2 separate regions of the Homo sapiens genome follow, and region 1 is reported to be linked to region 2. Evidence: microRNA targets listed by miRTarBase, many of them from high-throughput screens and not tested one by one. Region 2 holds a microRNA gene; the other region holds the end of a gene's coding sequence.
Evidence for each region. The annotated mature microRNA hsa-miR-627-5p reads GUGAGUCUCUAAGAAAAGAGGA and lies in region 2 at 2,341-2,362, shown strand. An mRNA with a match to its seed (bases 2 to 7 or 8) in the 3' UTR can be bound and repressed. Matches are read on the target gene's strand: a 7mer-m8 pairs with bases 2 to 8, a 7mer-A1 pairs with bases 2 to 7 and ends in A, and an 8mer does both.

Region 1: miRTarBase lists KANSL1 as a target of hsa-miR-627-5p. Seed matches in the 3' UTR shown: 7mer-m8 at 1,155-1,161.

The regions. Positions count from the first base shown.
Region 1 is chr17:46,028,214-46,032,608 of GRCh38, reverse strand. It overlaps KANSL1 (KAT8 regulatory NSL complex subunit 1), which reads left to right. Exons shown (of 15, transcript NM_015443.4): 14 at 310-562; 15 at 906-2,693. The coding sequence ends at 1,133. It overlaps MAPT (microtubule associated protein tau), which reads right to left. Exons shown (of 13, transcript NM_001377265.1): 13 at 4,275-4,395. Among named protein-coding and RNA genes, the nearest start is that of STH, 31 kb to the right of the region's middle.
Region 2 is chr15:42,197,596-42,201,991 of GRCh38, reverse strand. It overlaps MIR627 (microRNA 627), which reads left to right and starts at 2,326; the gene lies at 2,326-2,422. It overlaps VPS39 (VPS39 subunit of HOPS complex), which reads left to right. Exons shown (of 25, transcript NM_015289.5): 2 at 2,031-2,096.

The DNA.
Region 1 (4,395 bases), not on the chromosome of region 2:
TTTTACTTTTTTTTCTTTGACTACAGTTTTCAAAGTCTACACGAATCTCCCTAACCTCCTGAATTCACTAGGCACTTTGCTATGGACTCACCTGGCATTGTTCAGCCATGCTTTTTTCTTGGGATGGTAAATGTTGTATACCTACCCCTCCAGAGAATAGTGGGAAGAAATGGGAGTTGCTGGATCCTAAGGAAAATCTGTTGGTGTTTGTTTGCCTCAACTCCTCCAGTGGGGATGCTTTTTTCATGCCCTCTACCCCCATAAGTAAACATTTCCCAGGCACTCAGATTTGCATTCCTTGGTGTGCAGGTCCTACAGGTCATCAGACGGCCGGACAACCCCCCAGCTGGGCAGTGCCAACCCCTCCACCCCCCAGCCTGCCTCCCCTGATGTCAGCAGTAGCCACTCTTTGTCAGAATACTCCCATGGTCAGTCCCCTAGGAGCCCCATTAGCCCGGAACTGCACTCAGCACCCCTCACCCCTGTGGCTCGGGACACTCCGCGACACTTAGCCAGTGAGGATACCCGTTGTTCCACACCAGAGCTGGGGCTGGATGAACAGGTAAGGGACGCAGCCTTTGGGTGGGGTTGGCATGGTTGGGGGATGGAACCAGGAAGGGGCAGCATCTGCTGAAGAGGGACCTAGCCATCCCCTCCCCCTTTTGAAGGGACAAAGGGCTGCACTTAAATTGATCTCCTCAACGTTCAGTGGAACTGTATTGATCACTGCTAAATGATCAATACAGTTGTCTGGGTATACCCTAGGAGGGGTGTTCCCAGACTGTCGCAGGAACACTAGATAGACTGGTCCTAGGCTCCAGGCCACAAGGTTTGTGGCAGGGCCTTGGAGCAGGAAGCAGGCTGGCTGGGACTGGGTCCTCAAAGAGCAACTTGTCTGCCTACAGTCTGTCCAGCCCTGGGAGCGGCGGACCTTCCCCCTGGCGCACAGTCCCCAGGCGGAGTGTGAGGACCAGCTGGATGCACAGGAGCGAGCAGCCCGCTGCACTCGACGCACCTCAGGCAGCAAGACTGGCCGGGAGACAGAGGCAGCGCCCACCTCGCCTCCCATTGTCCCCCTCAAGAGTCGGCATCTGGTGGCAGCAGCCACAGCTCAGCGCCCGACTCACAGATGAGCGGGAGACAGCCATCTAAACAGACTCACTAACTATTGGCATTAAAGCTTCAGAAATCTCTGCGTTTGATATTCAAACATCATATGCCGGAAATTTTCACAGTTTTTAGTGAACTTAAGGAATTTAGATCCTACTTTGGTATTTTTTTTTCTTGTTTTAATTTTTGTTTTGTTTTTGTTTCCATGTTTTCTTGTCACACACCTGAGCACTTCCTCCCGTTGGCAAACAGAAGTTCAGGATGAGACCCTGCTGGCCTGGTCCTGGCACATCCTCTGCACTGTTGAATCACTGGACTTACTGATCTTAGATGACCACCCCCTCCCTCACACCTGTGGGCAGGGCAGAACAGCCTGGCGGGCTACAGTTTAGCATGGCCTTCTTGAGCTAGGGTGGAATGGGGCAGGGTGCTCTGGACTCTTACCCCCTCCCCTCCCATCTGTGGCTTGGCTCTGCTGTGGCCCTCCTGGCTGGGTCCCCTTGGTTTTTCGTGCTGGAACATCCCCACCAGAGCCTCTCTGCCATAACTGCCAGCTGCTCTCCCCGAGTGCTCAGCTGGCAGAACACCTTTCCTTTCTCACCCAGAACTTAAGAGACTGATTTTTTGTTTCATCTGCATTTGGTCTTCTCTGTTTTGACTCTTTCACTGCAGTAACCTGGCTGTGGCTGCTCAGGTTCCCCTCCTCATGCCCCTTGGTACCCTTCCCTGTCTGCTCTCCCATGCCATGTACACACCCACAACCCGTCCTTCCACTTGGAATATTTTTACCACCTATCCTGATCTTTGAAGGTAGGGTTAGGACTACTTAACCTCTATTCCCACTCCCCTGCAAACTGGGGGTTGTGGGAAGTGAGCAGCCATCTCCCTGTGTGATTTTTTTTTTTTTTCCCTCTGATTCACTTTGCCATGTTTCCTTCACATCCAGATCCCTGTCGGTGTTAGTTCCACTCTTGGTCTTTCACGCTCCCCTTGCCTGTGGAACATTGTCTGGTCCTAGCTGTGGTTCCCATTGTTCCCCCTTCACCCTTCTCTGTTAACCTTGTGCCTGTCTCCTGTATGATCACATCACCAAAAAGGGGGAGGGGGGAGAAGACTCTTTTTTTTTGGCCATTTTGTAATCGTATAAAAATAGTAGACAACTGCTTAATGGTTGGGGTTTTTTCACAATTTTCAACATTAGTGATTTTTTTTTCTGTTTGCAAGTTAAAGGGTTTGTCATTGTTTCTTTAAAAAAAAATACAATAATGCACCATATCCCTATGCATAAAGTGCTTCTTCTATTTATAAGGTTGAAAATTCTGAATAACCCTTTTAGCATTGAAAAAAAAAACAAAAACAAAAAATGGAAAAAAAAAACCTTGTATTTTGTAAATATTTTCTTTTCCTGCTTTGGAGCTGTGTAATGGCAGCGAAACATGTAGCTGTCTTTGTTCTATAGAAATGCTTTTCTTCAGAGAAGCTGATCTTTGTTAATGTCTTGATTCTGTTCGCAAAGCACAGACTAGTGCTTAAAAAAAAAAAAGAAGGAAAAATTGAAAAAAATAAAAAAAAAAGTTACAGAATGCTGTGTACCAGGCCTTTCTTGACTTACTGAACTGTGTATGCATGGTAGTGTTGGCAGTTTCGGAGCTGGCTCTCTGCCGCCGTTCTTTGGGGTACTCTGACTTGCTCTATACCTTGGAAAATCTCCATTCTGTCTTGTGGGAACGCCGCAGGTTGATCTGATGGCCACCAGAGAGAGAATGGTGGTGGCTTTTCACTGAGGGTAAGGGCTGCCAGGAGGAGAGGGGATCTGCATTGATCATCTCTTTTTTCTTTTTGTTGAGTGAAAGCAGTTGATGCACTTTCTCTCTAGTGAAGTCAGCTGTATGATATTTTCTATCTGTTCTAAGTTGCTCTTTAAAGGAGATTTTGCTTCTCACTGTTAAATTTTTCTGAGGTTTGGTGGGGTCAGTGAGATACATAATTTGCTTAGAGCCTGGATTGGTTCTTGCCTGCTGCCTGAGATTATAACATCTTTCTTCTGAGGAGGTTACACGCTTTTTTTTTTTATTGTTTGAGATGGGATCTTGCTCGATTGTCCAGACTGGAGTGCAGTGGTGCAATCTTGGCTCACTGCAGCCTGGATCTCCTTCCTGGCCTCAAGAGATCCTCCCACCACAGCCTTACCAGTAGCTGGGACTGTAGGCATGTGCCACCATACCCAGCTAGTTTTCGTGGGTTTTTTGTGGAGATAGTGTCTCACTATGTAGCCTAGGCTGGTAGGTGCTTTTTTTTTGTACAAGATGAATAAGTGGGTGGGGCTGGTTCTCCCTCTGCTCTCTTCTTTGCATGGCAGTCAAGCTGAAACAGCCAGTGAGGCTGTCTCTTGTGGCTCTGAAAGCCATGCTCTCTGAGATAGCACTTCTCTTTTGCTGGCCTGTTGCTGCTTTTGTAGCTGCAGTTAAAATCTGTTTTACTTAAACATCTGCCTGCGGTGGCAAACACATCAGGAAGAGCAAAGAAAAGTAGTATTTTGAAACAATCTAAGGATTCAGTATCATGACCTTGGCATAGTTACTAAGGAATAATATGATGGATTACTGTTTTGTTTTTGTTTTCCTTTGTGGCATTGCTATGAAGATGCTATCTGGTTATCCCTATCTTGGTTTAGCAGAAATACTCCTCAATCTATAATAAGGTACCAAAGGAAAGAAGGCAGCTCTGCAAACCTAGCAGGAATCTAAGCCATTCATTAAGCTGATTGGCTTGGTGTTCTGCTCCAGCCCCAGGCCTCTGGACTAAATTTCCAGGGATGAAAGATCCCATATCCTCATCCCCAACCTTCTCAGGTTTGCATACACTGGTGCCGGTCTTGCAAACTGAGTGCTGCATCGTGAGGTCAGCCACAAGGCTTTGTATTGCCCTTTGAATGGGACTAGGATGGTTTGCCAGCATCACAAAGAAGCAACTGCAAATGAGCAAGTCTGAGAACTCTCACCTTCAGGGCCCCAGAGAGAGCTGTTAATCCTGATGTCCAGCTTTTATTAATACTATCATTTCCTGTTCTGAGCTAAATTATCTAAGGGTGCGTGGGAAAGAACTTAAAAAATAGACATTCTATATGACTTTCTTGTCCTTGGAATCCATGAATGGAGACCTTATTTAATCAGAGTAATAACTTTATTTCCAAATTCACTTTTACAGCAACAGTCAGTGTAAATCATTTGTTAAAACACACAATACACTATATAGACATTCACAGACAGAAAGCTAAGCTAAGAT
Region 2 (4,396 bases):
ATGGGGATTTGAAAAAAGGACTTACTTCAAGGGATAGTTGTGAGGATTAGTGAAATAACAGATGCGTTTAGCATTTCCTGGAACACAATACATGCTCAATAAAAGTTATCTATTTGTACCATTATCCAAGATTTTATTTTACAGAGGTCAAGAATCAAGAGAGTTTATGAAAGGAATGAGTGACCTTTATGTTATCAAAAAGCTAAGGAAGTATCTGTACATGCTTACCTTCCTTGAATGATGTAATATGGGTCTGTCAGGGTAATTATTTAAACTCTTTCTGAGCCTCTTTTTACCTAGACCAGTGCCTCCCAAAATGTGGTCCTTGAACCACCAGCATCAGCATCATCTGGGAAGTTGTTAGAAATGAAAATTCCTGGGCCTACTTTTAAACCTACTAAATCAGATGCTCCGGGGTAGAGCCTAGCATTCTGTATTTTAACAAACTCTCAAATAATTGTGATACACTAAAGTTTAAGAACCACTAGCCTAGACCATCTTTTAAAATGTACAATTTGGCTGGGCACAGTCGCTCACCCCTGTAATCCCAACACTTTGGGAAGCTGAAGGGGCATTGCTTGCGGTCAAGAGTTGGAGACCAGATTGGGCAATATTGTGAGCCCTCATCTCTATAAACATTTTTTAAAAAATAGCTGAACGTGGTGGTGCATGCCTGTATTTCTCGCCACTCAGGAGGCTGAGGTGGGAGGATCACTTGAGCTAGGGAGGTGGAGGCTGCAATGAGCCATGATCACACCACTGCTCTCTAGCCTGGGCAACAGAGTAGAACCCTATCTTAAAAAAATAAAAGTTAAAAAAAAGTGTACAATTAAATGGTTTTTAGTACATTCACAGAGTTATGCAACTATCAGCACAATAAATTTTAGAACATATTCATCACTTTCAGAAGAAACTCAGTACCCATTAGTATTTACTTTCTATTTTCCCCCAAGCCCACCAGCCCTGGGCAACCGCTAATCTTTCTACCTCTGTGGATTTGCCTACTCTGGACATTTCATATAAATGGAATCACGTGGCCTTTTGTCTGGCTTCCTTCAGTTAGCATCATGTTTTTAGGTTCATCTGTGTTGTAGCATATATCCATACTTCCTTTCTTTTCATTGTTAGCTAATATTCCGTTATATAGACATGCCACATTTTGTTTATCCGTTCATCAGTTGGTGGACATTTGGTTTGTTTCCATCTTTTAGCTATTACAGATAATACTGCTGTGAACATTTGTGTACAAGTTTTTGTGTAGAATATGTTTTCATTTCTGTTGGGTGTGTAACCAGGAGTGGAATTGCTGGGTCCCAGGGTAACTCTGTTTAGCCTTTTGAGGAGCTGCTAGACTTTTCCAAAGTGGCTCTCCCATTTTACATTCCTGCCAGCAGTGTATGAGGATTCTAATTTCTTTATATTCTCATCAACACTTGTTATTAAATATTTTCTACTAGACTATCTTTTGAGATAATGAATTCTGTAAGCTTATTATGTTACGTCATTTATTTTCCTGAAAGTAAAAGCATTTAAAGGATGCCTCTTAGCTATTATTGCTGAGGTTGGATACCTGGTTTCACATTTGTACTTCCATTTTGTGATTTTATAAACTTTCATCATATTCTTTTTAGCAGAATTTAAAAATATATATCTGAAGATATATATCTTAATAAAAGTATATATAACAAAAAATAAAAATCATAATAATTTAATCTTAAAAATACAAAGCCCTTCTATCTTTTTTATTAGTTTAACATTAAAACAATTGAGCCAGGACATTTTTATCCTCTGATATGTCTAGCCTAGTAATTATTCAATAAATGTGTTTTTAAATGGTTGATTTTCAAACATGAGTATAAACATTTCTTAGCTTTGCAAAACACCTCCTATCAAAAGCAACTCATTTTCTTGACACATTGATTTCTGATTACAAGCCCCAGCTAAAAAAATAGGGTTATACTCAAGCTGATTGACCTTTCTCAAAGCTGGTTTTTTTTTGTTTTTGTTTTTGTTTTGTTTTGTTTTTCCAGAGGAATGGCTTCTTGTGGGAACCAAACAAGGACATCTTCTTCTCTATAGGATTCGGAAGGACGTTGGTAAGTGCACATTGCTCATGCAAAAAAATAAGTTTTAATAGTCAGCTAGTATACAACTGTGAAATCAGTTATTCCTGGACCATTAAAAGAGAGATTGAAGGTTAGAGGGAGCACGGTGGGAAAATGGGGAGAAGACTTGAGAATGCCTAGGGTTTTTCTCCTCCAAATTGTATTGCCCTACCTGCATTTGGGAGGTGAGGATGAATTGCTGGTTTACTTATTACTGAATTACTTATTACTGGTAGTGAGTCTCTAAGAAAAGAGGAGGTGGTTGTTTTCCTCCTCTTTTCTTTGAGACTCACTACCAATAATAAGAAATACTACTAATGGGCATAAGCTTCCTGTATATATGGTGTGGTGGTAGGAAAAAAAATTAGGCAACATCGATTTAAAATATCTTGTTGGCTTATGAGGGGTAGAACAAGAAGAGAGGACCAGGGTTTGCCTTCATGTGCACTTCCCCCTGGCTGCGTGACCGTGAGCAAGTTCTTTCCAACATCAGTTTTCTATAAACTCTCTGCCCCACAAAGTTGTTGGGGTGGATGCAATAATAGGCTCGAAGAAACTGTGAAAACTAAAGTTCTAATCAAATGTGACTGTCAGTAATGTAGAGTAATAACTAAAGTATTTGAAATGTATTCTGTTAAAGAGTGTTTTTTATTGGGGCAGAAAGTACCTCACTGCCCTTCCTTGTTTTCGTTTCTGTGCTCTCTTTATGGAGAATAGATGTGTTTAGGTATTATGCCCTGGAGCCACTCTACAGAAATCTGCAGTTAATTTCATACCCTTCAATATAATATATATTTCTCTGGTAAATAGCTTAAGAGATAGCTTAAGATAAATAGAGCTCTCTTGTGGAACCTGGAGCAAGGGTAACACTGGGGGAAAAAGCACCTTACTAGTGCACTCGGGAAAGAGAAGATATCCTGGTCAGTTTCTGCAGCAGGGTAAGAAAAGAAACCAGAGAACAAAATAGATAATTTATTTCATTTCTAAGTTTTTCAACTGTCCTCTAAATCAGGGTCAGCAAACTTGTTCTGAAAAGGTCCAAAGAATAAATATTTTAGGCTTTGCAGTGTTGTTACTACTTAACTCTGCCTTTGTAACATGAAAGCAGCTGTAGGCAATATGTAATGAATAGGTATGGCTATGTTCCAATAAAACTTTATTTACAAAAACATGCAAAGGCCTCAGTTAGGCCCTGGAGCAGTACATTGTTGATCTTTGTTTTAATGTTTTAAATTTTTAATTCTCATGGCCTGTGAAGTGGCTCATGCCTATAATCCCAGCACTTTGGGAGACTGAAGTAGGAGGAATGATTGAGGCCAGGAGTTCGAGGCCAGCCTGGGCAACATGGCAACACCCTGTCTACAAAAAATTAGCTGGATGTGGTGGCACGTGCTTATAATTCCAGCTGCTCTGGAGGCTGAGGTGAGAGGATCGCTTGAGCCCAGGAGGTTGAGGCTGCAGTGAGCTATGATCACACCATTGCTCTCCAGCCTCAGCAACAGACTTTGTCTCAAAAAAAAATTTCTTTTTTTAGTTCTCGGAGCCAAAATATTTGCGTTCTGTGATATTTGCCTGGTCTATAATTTTAAAATTAAGCTCACATTTTAATTTTAAAGCTAAAAATGCTTATCTTATTCAGCATTCAACAATTGTTTTTTGACTCTCTGCTTTGCTTTCACATGTAAGTGGTGATCAGAAATTGAAAACAAGACTTTATAAATGAAGTCTCAACACAGTATAGACCTGAACTGGTAATATTAGTGTTAATCTGGCTTGGAACCCTGGTGGCGACTATTCCTTGCCCTATGATCATTTTATCATGTCACCTTTGACAAATTAGTTAATGTTCCTGGGCCTTGGTTTCGCCATAGGTAGATTAAATATAGACAATTAGGAAATCAAATTCTGATTTGAAACTTTTCTTCAAGAAATGCCATTTTTCCCTATACTCTTGGTGAACAGTTTAGTTCTGGCCCAGATCTGGCCTGATGTGGGCCAGAAATAGACCTGGGCCCGTGTGAATTAGTTCTAGGGTTAATTTGGTTTCCAGATTTGAGATATTTCAAGCCTAAATAGGTCTTTGGGTAGACTGTCTTTCTGAGGAAAGGGAGGGGATAATAGGGTCAAGAAAAGACTAGGGGTAGGGATCGTAGGCTCTGATCTGATCTGAGTCATTTCCCTGGAGCTCAGTTGAGCCAGTGACATTTTTATCCTCTGATATGTCTAGCCTAGTAATTATTCAATAAATGTGTTTTTAACTGGTTGATTCTAAAATATGAGTATAAACATTC